2 separate regions of the Homo sapiens genome follow, and region 2 is linked to region 1. Evidence: fine-mapped expression QTL. Tissue or cell type: sun-exposed skin. Region 1 holds a variant in brackets; the other region holds the start of a gene. All regions are shown on one strand. Distances are between the middles of the regions.

The links. PIP is the estimated chance that this variant, and not a neighbour inherited with it, causes the effect.
Region 2: it holds the start of MACROH2A2, and the variant in region 1 is fine-mapped to the expression of MACROH2A2 in sun-exposed skin (GTEx, PIP above 0.99). The same link has a PIP of 0.9 or more in esophagus mucosa and unexposed skin.

The regions. Positions count from the first base shown.
Region 1 is chr10:69,952,543-69,960,962 of GRCh38, forward strand. It overlaps COL13A1 (collagen type XIII alpha 1 chain), which reads left to right. Exons shown (of 41, transcript NM_001368882.1): 39 at 340-426; 40 at 4,462-4,500; 41 at 6,157-6,602. The coding sequence ends at 6,159. LOC107984242 (a long non-coding RNA gene) reads right to left here. Exons shown (of 4, transcript XR_007062181.1): 3 at 4,128-4,313; 4 at 2,353-2,436. Among named protein-coding and RNA genes, the nearest start is that of LINC02636, 53 kb to the right of the region's middle. RefSeq lists a silencer at 4,277-4,346. The variant G/C (reference allele first, on the strand shown) is at 3,892.
Region 2 is chr10:70,048,403-70,056,621 of GRCh38, forward strand. It overlaps MACROH2A2 (macroH2A.2 histone), which reads left to right and starts at 4,444. Exons shown (of 9, transcript NM_018649.3): 1 at 4,444-4,598.

The DNA of each region.
Region 1 (8,420 bases):
TGGTCCCTAGCCACTGTGTTCAGCACAGACCCACGCTGGGCTTAGTATTAGCAAAACCGGCCACCAAAATCTTCAGTCTGTGGTTCCCTGCACCTGCAGCTCTGAGCCCTCTGCCTGTCCTCCCCTCCCCCTCCCACCCACCTTAGCCAAATTCTCAGGTTCCTGGGGGGTGGGGAGGAGGTGGGTATTGACTCCAAATCCTACTGGGGAGAATATCCTAATTTAAAGCATCTCTTTTTCCCTTTTTAATTTTATTTTTCTTTTTCTGTCTTCAACCTTAACACATGAATGATCTTAAAGTTTTGATGTTTTTTTCTCGGACTAAACCATTATTTACAGGGGGAGAGGGGGAAGAAAGGCTCTAGAGGGCCTAAAGGGGATAAGGGAGACCAAGGAGCGCCTGGATTAGATGCCCCCTGCCCATTGGTATGTTTTTGTTTATCACTTGCATTGTTCTGGTTTTTGTTCTTGAGGTTTGTAAGTTGGAAACAAAGAAGGCAAATAAACTAAGATGAGAACCAAATGTCTACACGGATGCTACCAAAATCTCTCTGTTCATTTGACTGGTGAAATTCTGCCCGCTGTTGGATTTGCTTTGTAACCACAGCTGCAAGTAATTCTGGCTAAATCCCTTGCCTTTGAATCCTTTTCCTTTGAAGATACAGAGCAATCGATGTGTGGAAGTGAGGAAACCACTAGGAAAGGGATTTTCAGGGAAGGCCTCAGCTCTTAGCTCCAGGATGGCTTTGGAAGCCAGTGTAGCATTTGTGAGCCACGGATTTGCCTTCTTCGTTTCATGGCCACCTCTGTGGGCCAGTAGTTCAAGCTGTCTGAATCCTCACTTGATCAGGATGCAGGACACCAGAGTTAGCGTCTCCTCAGGGCCACTGATGCTCAAAACTGGGCAGAACAAGGCCAGATGAGGGGCTTCTAATGCACAGCCTCCCAACACTCACCAGCCATCCAGCTGAAACCTTTAAAGCTGCAGACCAGAACTGGTAGTCAGACAGACACCCCATGGGAAGCCTTCTCAAAAGAGCCAGCAATTAATGATGAGGCACTTCTGCTGGGTTTCTCAAGTGCCTTTGAATCCATTTGAAGGTTCTAAAAATTATGATGCACTAAAGTTGAAGTTTGTCTGTGTTTACACTAAGTGAGTCTGTAGAGAGAGGAGGATCAACGGAGAGGGGGCAGGTTGTATGTGTGCAAAGCTGAACTCTCCAGAGCACAAAGAGAGCACAAAAGCTGGATTTGGGAGATGGGGGATCACCTGGGATTTAGCCCCTGTTTGTAGATGCCTCAAGGGTCCTGCATCCTGGCCAGGGTAGGACTGGGCCTCTCTATTCCATGGTTGGAGCTGGCCAGCCTTGACCTGAATAATCATCGTGGTTGGTTTTGTGAACAGGGACACCGAGGTTTTAAAGGAGAGAAAGGGGAGCCGGGGTTACCAGGGCTGGACGGACTGGATGCCCCATGCCCATTGGTATGGCATTGCCCTTGCTTGCCTGCATGGCCGATTTGGGCTTCCCCATGTGTGTGATTCATACTGGGTTTCTCCCCAGCCACCCTCCACACTCCTCCTCCATCCCCCCCAGGCTCCACTTCCCACTTCTTCATTCTGTAAATGCCAAGGGTCACCCCGCCTAGGCTAGTACTCTGGGGGCTCCCAGTCATGCCACCCTCTTGCATGCAAAGTTTACTGGGATGTTTCCTGGCTTCCTGCTGCAGCTACCTCTAAAGCACAGCCACTTGATGCCAGCCAGCTCTCCCACCCTGAAGTTGGTTTTGGCTGCCTCTGATACTCATCTCCAAGCTGATTCTAGACAAAGCTGCCACCAGATACCAGCTAGGAAAGTGGATTCTCTGGACTGGTTTTCAGAACCATGACTCACTTCTTTTCCTTCAGGCAGTGAAGTTAGTTCAGAATCACTGGCTGAGCACCTAGCGAAACATGTGAATGAGATGCCTGATCAGCCCTGTATCCCCTGCTCCTCCATCACATGATTTGGGGGACAGAAGGGCATGATTACAGAGTAGACTGAGAAGCTCTAGAAGTGAGCTGGAGGAGGGGCCACCTGCCTATTCTTCCAGGTTGGATCGTGGGTCGCTGCCCAGGTGACACCATCAGAACTAGGGGATGGTCCAGGATTAGGTTTTCGGATCCTAAAGGGTTTGTCCTTCTTGCTTAAATCTCCAAAGACATTACCAGACCCTTCCTCGTCCCTTTCTTTCATGATCAGATGGCTTCTTACTGAAGAGTCTGGGAGAGACGGAAAGGTCAAGAATGTAGTTAAGGAGGAGGCAGGGAGACAGCTAAGGACCTCTCTTCCAAGCACGTCCCAGGCGAAGTGGTAGCAGTTTATTCCCGCCTGCCCAGTCCCTCTCTAGGCATGGACAGTCTAGGCCTCCACGCTGATCCTCTTACTGCAAAAGAAGCTGAAGGGAACACTTCACTCCAAGGCTCAAGGGGTTACAGCTCTCCCCAAATTTCCCCAATAGGTTTGGAGTTCAAGAGCTATTTTATCATACCAGTAATAAGAGAATTTGGGGTCTCACATCCCCGCCCTGGGGTCACACAGGAATTCTCTTTGAACAAAAGAGAAAAAGATACAAGAAATTATGCTGTGTGACCCTGAAAGGTGGTCGTAGAGCCCCTTGAAGGGCAGTAGGGACTTTTTAGGAGGAGCATAGGCAACAAAAGGAGAGTGCAGAGCAAGCAGGCGGGTAGCATGCTTCCTGTCCCTGCTGGTCCTGCCAAACCCTGCGCTTGCAGACTGCACAGCCACCTTTCTCAACCAGGACTTCCACCATCCACGCACCAATGGGAATGCCGCTCTGGCCCGCAGGGGCTCCCTTGAGCACTGGCCAGGTCTTCCCTCAGCCACAATCCCCTCCCACAATCTGGGCACCTTTAGTTCTGCCAGCAGCTGCCTTGGCCTCTCTGTTCCTCACCATACATTACTTTTCATTCTCTGCCTGCCCTGCCCTCCATATCCCCCTGCCACCATCCACACACCAATGGGAATGCCGCTCTGGCCCACAGAGGCTCCTCTCCCTCCCGGCATCCATGTGACGTGTGTCATACCGCACCGTGGCAGGCTGGGGAAGGGGCACAGGGTCACCCTGAAACTGTGGAATGCACCTCCTCCCCCTGCAATCCCCTCCCCAACCCAGAGGGGAAAATGAAGGTCACCCTGATTTGACTCTCCATGTAAAATGGCATTTTCTTCCATAACATCCCATATCAATGTGTCAATTTTCTATTAATTTTACTGGGGAAGTGTCTTCCCCTTGTTTCTCACTCTGCCTCCTCCTCTGTGTTATTATGGGCTTGAGGGGCAGGGGTAGCTATTGCTCATGACTTTTACTACAAGATAACCAGACTTCCTAAGCCCTCCATATTGGGACCAATTTCTGCTGAATGCCAGGTGATGAGAGGTTTCAGCCCCTGGCGTGGGTGGATGACGTCAGACCAGGGCAGCAGAGGACTCTCATTCCACAAGCTCCCTCAGGACTGAGCACTTGCTCCGGGTCTCCTGAAGCCCCATGTCCATCTCCTTGTCTGCCCTGCCAGTCTAGCAGACTTGGGCTGAGAACCAGACCTTTGCCCTTGGCCCAGCCTCGCCTTCCCCACTGGGTCTCTAGATTTCTAGATTCCCCATAGGGTATGCCAGCAAGGAGAGGATATGAGGGCCCAAGAAAACTCAGGAAAGTTTCTATCACCAAGGGCAGAACACGAACATCTTGAGGCTAAAGGAGCTGCATGGTTGCTACCAACAAAGGAGACCGACGGTGTGCAGTTGATTCCCATGTTTTTACTGCACTTCACCCCCAAATTCCCAGCAAGGTCTAAGGCTTCGCCAGGAACCCTTGTCTTCTTGCCAAAGGCAT[G/C]TCAGGGCCATCCTGCAATACTCATGAGGTTGCCTGTCCCTTCATGCCCCTCACCCCACCCCAGGATTAATCATCAAAGAAGGACTGTCTACATGTCCTCCTCCCTGTGCTTAGGAAGAGAGACAAATAAGAGAATGAGAAGGCTGGGAAGGCCCTTAGCGGTCACATCAAGCAACTGTCCTTGCCAAGGTTTTATGGAGGAGGAAACTGAGGCCGCCTTGTGCTGAGTGGCTTACCCGTGAGCAGCCGGCACTCCATAGGGCCACAGCAGAGACTGTTTCTTCGTGGCACGGAAGGACATCTCTGCTTGCTGGTCCCACGGGCTAGGACAGCCCCTATTGACGTTGCACTATAGCTGCATGTGACCTTTAACCAATGGTAAAATAGCCGGATTTGTTTCCACCTCCTTCTGAGGTTCTGACCTGTAGTAGAGAAAAGAAATAGACAAGCGTGGGTGGGCCACATCCTGATCAGCTGCCAAAATGCGTGTGGCCCTTGTTACCCCTGTCCTGCCCACTTGGTGGACCATTGCAGGAAGTCTGAGCCCTCTGCCTTCCTTTCTCCTTGCAGGGCGAAGATGGCTTACCAGTCCAAGGCTGCTGGAACAAGGTAAGGCTTCCCATTGGTGTGCACTGGGGCTCCGTTCTCAGCAGTGCCATAAAGCTTCCACAATTTCCATTCTGCCTTGCTACAGATGAGGCAGCAAGACATAGGTCAAATAGTCACTGTCTCAAAGGCAGGGTGCCCATTAAACATCCCATACACTGCATGCTGTTAACAAACATTTTAAAATGCTTCTTAGAACATCAGTAAACCCTAGGCGGAATGTCCATGCAGCCACACAGGTGACATCTTTATGCTTTGTGTGTTCAATGTACATAGTGTCTTTCCCCCAAGGAACTTCCCCAAGGAGTTCCAGATCACACTCATAGAGTTCCTCTAAGGTCGTTTATGCCACGTGATGACATGTCTTAGACGTAGGACATCTCAGTTGCTTTCACTCTGAACTCACATGCTACTGTGCCTCCCCTAGGGGCTGTGCTCCTCACCACTCTACCACTCCCCTTGCATTTAAGCTGGCAGAGCTTCATGCCACCACACATGTGACCTGCAGCCAAATCTCTCCTGGGCTCCCAGAGTTCCTACCAACAATGAGTTTTCATTGATTCACACTGGCCTTGGCATTTGCCATTGTTAGAGCAGTCTGACATCATAGGACTGTGCCCTTGCATGTGATCGCCCCATTCAACCATGGCTCCCCAGAGCACAGGGCTGCCCAGGCAGACAGAGGCCATCTGCTTGCTAACTAATCCAGAAGACCCGCCTTGGTCCCCAGCAATGGTGGCAGCCACTATGCTGCCCCATACCGTCTCCCTCCACCTTGCCTGTCACTCCAAGTCTTCTCACCAACCCCCCACCACCATTGTCTCAAGGTTCATCCTCATAAAGGGACCGGAGACTCCAACATGTTCAAGAATCTGTGCTCAACGAATCCAGTCCTGTTCCAGTGGCAGCAGAGTCACACTTACAATGAGATGAACAAGCTCCCCTGTACTAAGATGCCAGAATCTCACTAGTGCACTGGGTTGGGTAAAAGTGGTGAAACCACCAAGACCCCAGGCCAACGCTGACCACCTACCTGCCTGGATACCTAAAGCACCCCCTAACCCAAGAAGGAAAAGCTCAACACTCAAGAGAGATGCCTCCCCAGAATCCATCCCTGGAGGCTGGCCTCGTCCTCCTGCCAAGCTCCACTTAGACCTAGTTAAAGCGCCACAAAAGCAGGTCAGAGGTGTCATAAGACCTCTGAACCCTTGACCCCTAAAAAAATTTCCTCTTTAAAGTTGCTGCCAATGGTTAGGAGACAGAAATGGTTGTGCTTAGCAGGGGAAGAACAGCCACTACCAAGAGCTGCAATGTCTTGGAGAAGCAACCAGAGAGCTTCAAGACTACTCATTCACACCTTAAGTCCAATCTGGGACAATGCAGTGGTTACAACAATCAGGCCTCCAAAGGCAGCAGAGAAAGAGAGTGCCCTCTAGTGACCACAAAGGGGATTCACAGAGAGGTGAACTTGGTTTCCTCCCTTCAGGGAGCTAAGGTCGCCACCAGTTTCTTTCACCTAGGGGCTCAGGGTTCCCACAGTTCTCCTGTCCAGAACTCCCATCCAACCCAGGACAAGATTTACCTCCCTTCCTACAAAGGAAATAAACCTCTGCAGACCCACTGAAACTAACAGAACATTGTTTTGTTTTTGTTTTGCAGTGATGCCTCTAACCTTGGATTGGCCTGTGTGTGTGTTTGTACATAGAATATTTATTTTTATACAGTTTTCACTTTTTGAAAATGCCAGAAGTATGATGCATCTTACAGATTATTAAAAAAGAAAGAAAAACCTGCATATTTTGTACAGAAAATATCAACCTCTTCCCTTTTGTTTACAAGATGTTTTGTATAAGCCTATGTCTCTAATACATTTTTTGTTTGGTCGTAATGTCTGCATGATATTTGTGCACATTTATTAAGTATCGAAGCTTAATAAATTATTGTGTCCTGGTGCCAAAGGGGGCCAGCCAGAACTGAGGTGCTGGCTAGCTCATGTGTGAATTCACATAAATGTAGAGGTCCATGATATTTGCTAAGCTAGGTGTGTCTAAGAGTATTTTAAACCCTTATGGATTTTCATTATTAAAGGAAATGAAACATGGCAATTCATGATCCTGATTAATCATTATATTAAATACATTCTCTCCTGTGAAAGCAGGAATTCCCAGAAGTAGGGGTCCTCAGAAGTGTGGAGTAAGGTTTTGAAATGTGAGGTTCAACAAAGGGAGGGAAGGGAACTTTATCGAGCAATGTATGTTGTTACAGATCCCAAGTTTATCACAGTGCTTGCTGTGTGAGCATTTAGGTTCAGTTGTGCTAAGGGCACCCAGGGTTTCAAAGGAGCCATTTGCTCTTGCTGTTGGGTTATGGTAGGTTTTTGCTTGTTTGTTTTGCTTTGTTTTGTTTTGAGCTACAGTCCCTAGTACCAGCTATTGCTAATCACAGCTGTTGACTTGATATGAGTTTGTGGGTTCACTCACAACTAGCAGTTGAAGGAGCTTTGCCTCATCTGCTGTTCCACTCCAGCAAAGAGCATTCAGAAACATGCCTAGATCTGGGCTTGGGCTGGGCCAATCTGAAGTTGTTTTTATTTTTTTAAGAAATAATGTTGTATTGCTTTCCATATTTAGTGCATTGCTTAGAAAAGGTCTCAGGAAACCGGTTTTAATGACCAGTTAAGTCTTACCTGTGGTGTAGCATACAGGTTTATCGTTAGCTGTTTGACAACATAAATTCATGCTTCTAAAAGCTTGAAAACAACAAATTACTCCAGTACTTTACATACATCCCCATCTGGTTTACATTTTGCATTTTCTTTACACATCCTTTCTTCCTAGACAACGCAAAGGGAAATTTAACTTCAGACTCTGTCCACATGCTGTCACACAAAACTCTAAATTAGTGGGCTTCACAGTCATTAGACCCCTGCCATGTGTGGGGATGAGGTCACACTCACAAGCGCTCATGGTAATGAAATCACACGCAGCTCAGACCCAAAACGTCTATACCAACATTCTTACTCTAAATGTCACTAGCTTAGCTTAGAACTTGGACAACTTCCTCTTCTAAGTCTTGGGTTCCTCATTTGAAAAGTGAAGCAAGTCTGGGCAACATAATGAGACGCTCATCTCTACAAAAACATTTTTCAAAATTTAGCTGAGTGTGGTGACACTCGCCTGTAGTCCCAGCTACTCCGGAGGCTGAGGTGGGAAGATTGCTTGAGCCCAGGAGTTTCAGGCTGCAGTGAGCTATGATCGCACCGCTGCACTCCAGCCTGGGCAACAGAGTGAGACCCTGCCTTAAAAGAAAAAAAAGGAAAAAAAAAAAAAAAAGGAAGGAAAGAAAAAAGAAAAGTGAAGCCATGCAGTAGTGAACAAGAGTTGATCTCTGTGGACACAAAGAGGGTTCATCTGAACCCAGGGATGTTTCTTGCCCTGGGCCGGATTCTCATGGCCCTGTAGCCCAGGGACAACTTCTCCAGCAGCCACGGAGTACTTTTAGAGGCCACAAAAATATCTTAATTTTTCACCTTTTTAAATTTAGAAAAAAAAAATGAATATATAACAATGAATCCAGCCAGGATTGTTTTTGTCTTTCTACCAGCACAATTGTAAAATATAATTTTTTGTATTTTTTTAATGGAGGAAGGCAAAACTGCCCAGGGCCCCCAAAAGTCATAACGCAGCCCAGCCCACATCCTCTGCCCCTTAGAATTCACAGTCACCCTAGCTGCGGGTGTCCCCACCTCCAGGCCACACTCCTCCCCTCCCAGGCGAGGGCCCAGGCAATCAGGGTGTGACCCCGTTCTGACCCCCTCCCCTTCAGGCTCTGGCCAGGGCAATCACAGCTCACTGATGATCTCAGGATAGAGTAGAACATTCACTGGAACCCAGAAAGGGGAGAGTCAGTGTTAGCTGAATATC
Region 2 (8,219 bases), 96 kb after region 1:
CTGTAAAGAGCAATTTTGTTTAGGTGTGAGGTCACATTGCACAGATCTGCCAACACAGATGCTAAAGTCCAAACTCTCTGGATACTTGCTGCCACTTCTCATCACAATTGTCACAAAGAACTCTGCCTGGAGGTAACAGGATGATCTCCCAGAAAGCTCCGTAACCGATCAGAGCAAGTTACCAACTGGCACACTCCCCTTAGCTCTGGGCTCTGTTTCCATTAAACGTAATGATACCACGTGCCTTATTTTCCTAACCACAACTTTGCATAATTGGGACTGACAGTGTATTTGTCTTAAAAAGCTGAAACACTTCATTTTCTTTTACAATATAGTTCATCAGTTAAACGCTAAACATTCGGTAGATTTCTTTAAAATCCAAACCAGCCCTAACTCTGAGCACACTGGAATCTCAGTCATTACTCATCTTACAAGGTATACACATGTAACATATGCATCAAATATTTGATTCATATATAAATGTACATATCTAAATATGCATCTATACACACACATACCTACTCATGCAAATCCCCTTTCCCAGAACCAAAGGGTCAAGACTTAGTATCAAAAAAGACATAGTTTGTCACTGTTTTTAAGAACCAGGACTAGTAAAATGTTTCTTTTGCTAGGAGACCAAGACATTCATTTTAGCCAGAAATTATAAGCATAGTCTTTGTTGGCCTAATGATTGCCTGCGTGTCCTTTTTTTTTTAAGGATATTATTCCCCCTCCACACATGATTAAGATCCTAAAGTCATCAGTCGTGATCAAGGAAATAAAAGTTTAACACCAATCATGTTCACTATTCAAAATATAAAAACAGGAAAGACTTTGTAAGTTTCCAGCTTAAACAAAAATTTATGTGTCAAATTGTCCAGTATTTTCCTAGCTACAACGTACTTTTGGACGCTGTGTTTATTCTTTCACAGGGTGGGATACTGTTAGCCTGGTGCTTTGTCTGCATTCATAACCTCAAGCTCCCACATTGTTATTTAGAGTTATACCAGTTGGTGTCTTGATAAAATTAATACAGTGTCTAGAGTTCCTAACTTACATCCAAAGAAGTGCATAAACCAATGATTTCCATCTGTTTCTATGACACTCCCAGGGAATCTCAGGTTACTTCAAAGGAGATCAGAAATTCCCAAATAAAATTAATTTAGATCTACAAATCTTACGCATATACTTACATATGCCAGATATAAATATATACCTACATGCACATAGGTAAATTCTGGAAGATGCAAAGTCAGGAAATTACTAAGGTAATTGCATATTAAGATCCTAGGAGGGTAAAATGATCACAAATTATAATATGTATCGTAAACTGATTAGAACTAATCATGAAAAATAAAAGTCCACTCAGTTTACACAAAATCACAAATTTGGATCAAGAAAAAGGGTTTGGGGGGTAAATCAATGAAGCTATTTTTGAAGTAGATGATTTTGTGGATGAATTACTAGCAACCCAATAGGATACAAATCTGGTTGGATGACTGATTCATTTGATTCTTTTTTTTTTTTCATCTCTAAATTATGCTACATGCCTCTCTCTAAATGGAGAAGTGCTTCATCCTGCATCTCAATAAAATTATTAAAGACATGTTTGCTGTAATGGAGTCAACTCACAATCAATACCTGTATTCATAATATTATGCACACATACAGGTCAAGGGTTAAGAAAATGTTTTCAGTGCAACTGTAATCAACCAACCCTCCTGTAATTAGGCTGTTTGCTGACTCCTTAGGGACATTTATTGGGAGGGGCCCAAGGGCCCCTCTTAGACTCAGATCATGTGACTGAGTGCAAAATTCCTTTGCTTAAAACAAATGCACTTCTCCACCTTCAGATTAAGGCAGTGATTAAGAGCATGGATCTGCCACTTCCTAACTCTATAACTGTGGGAAAGTTTCTCATCCACTCCCTGCCTCAGTCTGTAAAAAGGAGAAAATAGTGCTTGCCCCATACAAGTGTTGAAAGGATTAAATAAGTTAGGATAAAGTGCTTAGTACAGTGCACATAGTAAACATTCAATAAGTGTAAGCTCTTATCATTCTTTATTATTCAACTTGTCAGAGGTTCCCCGAGCTAGAGACCACTGCGGAACTCTAGATTACTTATCAACTTATGATCATGTTGACTTTTTAAAATGTATTTTAATTTTATATAATATTATATGATACTATCTCAGTGTTAAATTTTTATGTGTTAAATGTTCGGTATTAAACACACATAATTCAACTAGATCTGCATATTAAGTGGCATATTTGTCCCCTATACATCCTGAAAAGTTTGGAATTGGCGGAAACTGCATTGACTGGGTATCTGGACATGCATTGGAGGATCTCCCACTAATGTCCTGCGAGGCCATGGCTGAGTCATTTCACCCTTCCAAATACCAGATTTCTTCCTATAGCAAAGGTTTCCACTAGGTGAACTCTAAGAACCCTTTTATCCTAAGAATCAGAGTATTTTGAAGCTGACCTCTTCCTTGATTTTCTGAGTTGTGACAGCATCATCTGTCTGAAGAAACCAACCAGTATGAAATGGGAGAATCCTAACCAGTAAATTTACTAGATCCAGCCTCTCTCAGGATAGCACATAACAAAATGCTAGAATGAACTGTTATATAAAATTCACATAAAAATGACCACATATGCCACTTTTATTGGGAAATTACAAGGAGAATGTGAATCTAATATCTACTGATGAATTATTCAACTATATTTCAGTCAGCCTGGCTGACTGGATGACAGAGTATGAGTATTTTTCAAGCACTCATAGAAAACTCCTGAACTCTCTTGAATGTTGGCTTGATGGTTATTTCTGGTGAAGAATGGACACCTGAAGGTATAAGAAGAGAGACCCTTTCTTTAGGAATGGGAAAGGACATCATTATGGGATGCCCCAGGGGATCATTTGAAACCCTTTAAATATACATCTTGGGGAAAGAAGACTTTATCCTGACTGGATATCTGACCTGGAAAATACCTTCCAAGACAAAGAACAGTGAGGTCATACACAGAGGGCGTGAAAGGCTTAGGAAAAGAGTAAAGGAAGCCCCAAGAAACAGAGACTGTTGAGTCCAGGGGAGTTTGAGAAGCCATAGGAGACTGAAATAGAGGCTTATGCATATGTTGATGATATATGCGTGATTTGGAGGAAGTCAGAGAGAAACATGGCTGATTTCTCAGCAAATACACTTTAAAATGCACATGTTCTAAACCTAACCCGCTATCTATAAACGCCAGCAATAGCCATGATTAACTAACTAGTAGAGACGCAGAGGGTGGTAGGCATGAGTTCTTCCCACTCAGGCACTGGGAGGCTTTCAGTCACTCCAAAGTCCCCACTGCCTAAATAGTTACAAGTTTGTAGTAGCAAATATACACAATATTACCAAATGTAACAGCTTTAAAAATCAGCCATTTGGCCAAGGCTGGAGAATTCTGTTTGCACCGGTTTCTCTTTTTGGAAGGGATCAAAATGTTGCCTCTCACAGTCCTTTGACTGTAGGAGAAATCAGAGGAAACCTGGATGGTCCACAGCAAGTTAGTATTTCCCACTGAAATAAACACATTCTTTTGACTCCCCTCCAGCCATGGAGCCCTGGCCAACAACTCACAATACAAAGCCGAGACTGGCTTCCACTAGGAACACAGCAACTGCTAATCCCCATTATCACACCCGACAGTGTCCACCACACCCCCATAAAGATGCATTTTCTAGTAACTAATAAAAACTGGTCCTGAAGACAATAGCCTCGCGCTCATCTAAATACCCGTTGGGATATTGCAAATTAACACCTTGTAAAGCAACCCAATTAAAAATTATGCCCATACACACAGTCTCACCCACCAAAACATACATCTGCCTCTCCAAATATTATGCAACGCTGGATTCTAAATCGGTCTTAATTTCTAAAAAGCCTACAGGCACGGATATAAATTCTCAGCTCTCGTGGCTGTGGCCGCCCTATGCACTCTTCCCAGTGGTGGACACAAACGTTAATGTACTTGTTATTATTTAAGGACACAAAAATATAGAAGGTGGCATTTTTCGCTTTCCCCTTCGAAGACTCTCCCCAGAGCTGCCAGATGAACGCCCACGCCACCTTCTCCCACCAAAGGTGGATCCAGCTAACAGGAGACTGGATCGCGACCATAGCGCGTTTGTGCCCAGTTCTGGGGAAAGCCTCATGTTAGCGAGTGGCCCTCGGCTCGTCTCGCAGATCGGCCAAGTACGCGGAGGCCGCGCGGTTTCACCATTAATACTCCTGAAGGACAATAGCTCATCAAGCCCCACCGAAAGCCCCGGACCCGTCGCGGAGCCTGGGCTGGCGGGGGATGAGGCTGAGCAACTCCTCCTAGAGGTGGTTATGTGGAGAAGGAGCAATCCCTTCTCCCTCCTCCTCCTCCCCCCGCTACTATCCGCGGCCCAGAGAACTGCCGCTTGCCGCCATTGACACGCACAGATAGAACCCAAAGAAAGGCAAAGAGTCCTGCCCGGCACCGGCGCCGCGTGGGCCAAACCTGCGCCCGTGGAGGGGCGCGCAGAGGGCACCGGGCGCCGGGAGCAGGCGGCGCAGCACCAGGTGAGCCCGCCATGGCGATGGCATTATTGTTTAGGGTGCTCCGGGGTCTGGAAACAAAACGCGCCGCCGGGGCAGTGCAGGGGCCGGAGAGAACCACCTCTGCCTCTCCCCCGAGCCCCTGCGGGCGCACCCTCGATAGCCGACCCACCCTCTGCAAAAACAAATTCTTAAATCCAGCTGCCCAACTTGCTTCCTTGGGCGATAAAGGGGGGGCTGCTAAAGAAGTGGTCAAATTCCTGCGGCCAGCGAGGGGCCGGGGGCGTCGAGGGTACTGAGAGGGGAAGGAGGAGGGATGCGAGGTTCAGCAGCGGGCCCCAGGCGAGGCTGGACCCGGAGGAAGCGGAGGTCTCCTGGGAATGCGGAGTTTCGGGCGCAGGAGCGGGAGGACGGAGGCGCCCGGCCGCCGATGGGCACGGGGCGATGGGTGGGGGGCTGCGCAGGGCCCGAGGGAGCCCGGGGAGGGCCGCTCGGGGGCCTCTGAAGGTGCCCGGGCAGGGCGCCGGCGGCTCCAGGCTGACAATGGAGGGGGCGCGGAGCAGCCGGGCGGAGGTTAGGGACCCGAGTCCGGGGGCGGGCCGCGCCGGGGAAGGTCAGGTCGGGGACGCCGGGTGGCGGGGCGAGGGCTGGGGGTTGCTGCGCGGACACCCGGGCGCCGCGGGCGGGCGTGCGCCCCGGGGCCGGCGCGGAAGAGGGCGCGAGGCCGGGCACTCCCCTTCGGTTCCCTTTCCGGGGCGCCCGGTGCCGACGCGCGCTGCGCTTTCACCGGGAAATGGCGGCCCGGCCGTGGCTCGCCTGGGCAGTCTGGCTCCCGCTTTGCGCGGGAAAAAATAATAATAATAAAAATATCGAAAAAGGGAATAAAAGTAAACTGGCTGCGGCGCAGGAAAGGGCTCTGCCGGGCGCCGGACGCCGTGCGTATCGCTCGCGGGGCGCGGCGGTTGGGGACCAGCCCTGCCTCCCCCGGCTCCCAGCCTCCAGCCCCGGCGCACCTCAGCCCCAGCCCGGCCAGCCCCCCGGATCGCCCGTGGGTGTCCTCCCCCGCCTTTCCTTGGGGGGGCGCCCTCAGTTCTTGCCCTCTTTGTTCCTTACAACAATGGCCAAAGGGGCATTGGTTCCCCAAGGGCCAAACGAGCTTCCTCCAGGAGTTTCCCGTCGCGTGCAGTGGACCACCGTGGGCCTGACTGAGGCCTGGTCCTTGCCAGGGTTTTTTGGCAACGGCCCTGGATGAGTGAAGGGATGAAAGGCGCGAGAAGAAATGGGCTGAGAAACCAAAGTGCGGGGCCCTGAGTGTTTGAGGGGACGCGATGGGAACCGTGGCTCCGCTGCCCTGATTTTAAGGGCAGTTACCCTGTCACAGCCACGCTGGAACTGAGGTGTCCTTCCAGCTTCTGTCCACCTCAGAGGAATTCAAAACAAGGGCCCAGTTCTAAGCCCCACAGACCCCAGGATCCCCTAGGGGCCATTAGTCCACCGCGGCAAATGGTTTCCTCACTTTGCTCATTTGTGTTTGTTTTGAAATCCAATTGTCACCTCACTGGGCTGCACAGTTGCTACTGAAACGGTTCAATAGGTGAGAGAAAAAGAAAACATTATTAAGAGCGAGAACGTGTCTTCGTGTGTGTTGTTTTGAACCACAAACTAAGCTACACATAATTCTCAATCCGTTTTAACACACTTTTTATTTTCAAACTAAATGTTAAGAGCTCCAAGATTTGGAAACATACTGGTGATTTTTAGAATTGTTTTAGCCTAAAATTACATATAAATAAATAGAGGCACTGCCCGGCGGAAAAGTTTATCTTGAGTCGCATAATTCACATCTTCATAACCCCTCTTTCCTGTAGCCAAATTTCCTTTTAAAACATGCCCAGTTCTCCTCTTCTCTGGTTTTTCCTATCCTACCACAGTTACACCTCACCTGGATCCATTAATTGTCAGACTTTACACATTATTAGTGGTTTCCTCTATATCAAAACTGCGTAAAAGAATTTACCTCCTTGAATCCGGAGTGTCCCTGTGATTCTGACCCTACTCCCTCACCATTCCATCTTCTGTCTGGTTCCCAGGATTTTTAAAGCGCCTCTGGTCTGCCATTTCCCAGTGGGTGGGACACCCTGCTAGCTATTGTCTGAGACAACCACATCTGTTTTCACTGCCTCCTGCCAGCAGAACAGGAGGTGAGTCCTGTCTTAGGCAACTTTAAATGAAAGGTATCTGTAACTTGTTACCGGGGAGGGATGTGCAAAAATTCAGCCAACTTTCTTAAGAATGTTTTTCAACCTTAAGAAATAACCTCCAAGTTAGATGCAGTCTTGGTAAATGGAAAGTATATTGCACAGAGATTAACAAAGAACTTGTGGTTAGAGATCATTCAACAAACACTTATTGAGCACCAAGTCTTTTGTTGTTTGTTTTGTTGTTGTTTTGAGATGGGGGTCTCGCTATATTGCTCAGACTGGTCTCGAAATCCTGGGTTCAAGGGGTCCTCCCATCTCAGCCTCCTGAGTATACACCAATTCTTAAACACCTCTAGATAGGGAAAGAAATGAAATATAAGGAAGTCATTGGGCCCTTCTCTCATAAAGCTTACAACCCCAAGCCTAGGAGATAAAATATACATGCAGGTAAAACAAGGTAAAAAGTGATTTTGGCAAGCTAGTGGGAAAACAGGTACTTTCATATACTGCTGACTGGTGTGTAAATTGATATAACCAATTGGAAGAGCAGTTTGGCACTATAAAATTAATAATGCACACATTCTGTGACTCACCATTCCATTTCTCAGTATGTCACCCAAAGAAGCAGGCATCCGTGAGCTCAGCATGTATAAGGATGTTCATTGCAATTTTGGTCATTCTGAAGTAGAAAACAGCCTAACAGCCATCAACAGGGAATGGCTAAATAAACTCTGGTGCATCTGTCTTCTGGAATATTAGGCAGCAGTTCAAAAGAATGAAGCAGATCTATACATACTGAGACAGAAAAAGATCACCAAGATGTACTATTAATGAAAAAAGCAAATTGCAGAACAGTACATACTATATGGTACTATTGATATTAAAACGATATAAAATTATACATCTCTATAAGTAAAAATTCATACAAAATGGACAGAAAAAGTATAGAAGATGCCCACTAAGAGAGACAAGAACTAGAGGAATTGTCAAGAAGGGCTTTAGCCATATCATTATTGATACCCATCCATAACCTTGTTACAATATTTGAAGTTCTGTAATTTGTTTTTTTTGTTTGTTTTGTTTTGTTTTGTTGAGATGGAGTATCTCTTGTCCAGGCTGGAGTGCATTGGCACAATCTCAGCTCACTGCAACCTCCATCTCCTAGGCTCAAGTGATCCTCCTGCCTCAGCCTCCCTAGTAGCTGGGACTACAAGCTTGTGCCTCCCAAAGTGCTGGGATTACAGGCGTGTGCCACCATGCCCGGCCAAGTTCTGTAATTTGAATTAATGTATGTCTTGCTTGGATAACTAAATACAAGTAATAATTTTAAAGTGATTGATAATACATAATGATAATACATAATTAATACATAACGATATACACAAAAAATTTACTACAGTAGTTTGTAAAGGGAGAAGAGAGTTTTGGACTTGAAGGGAGGGTG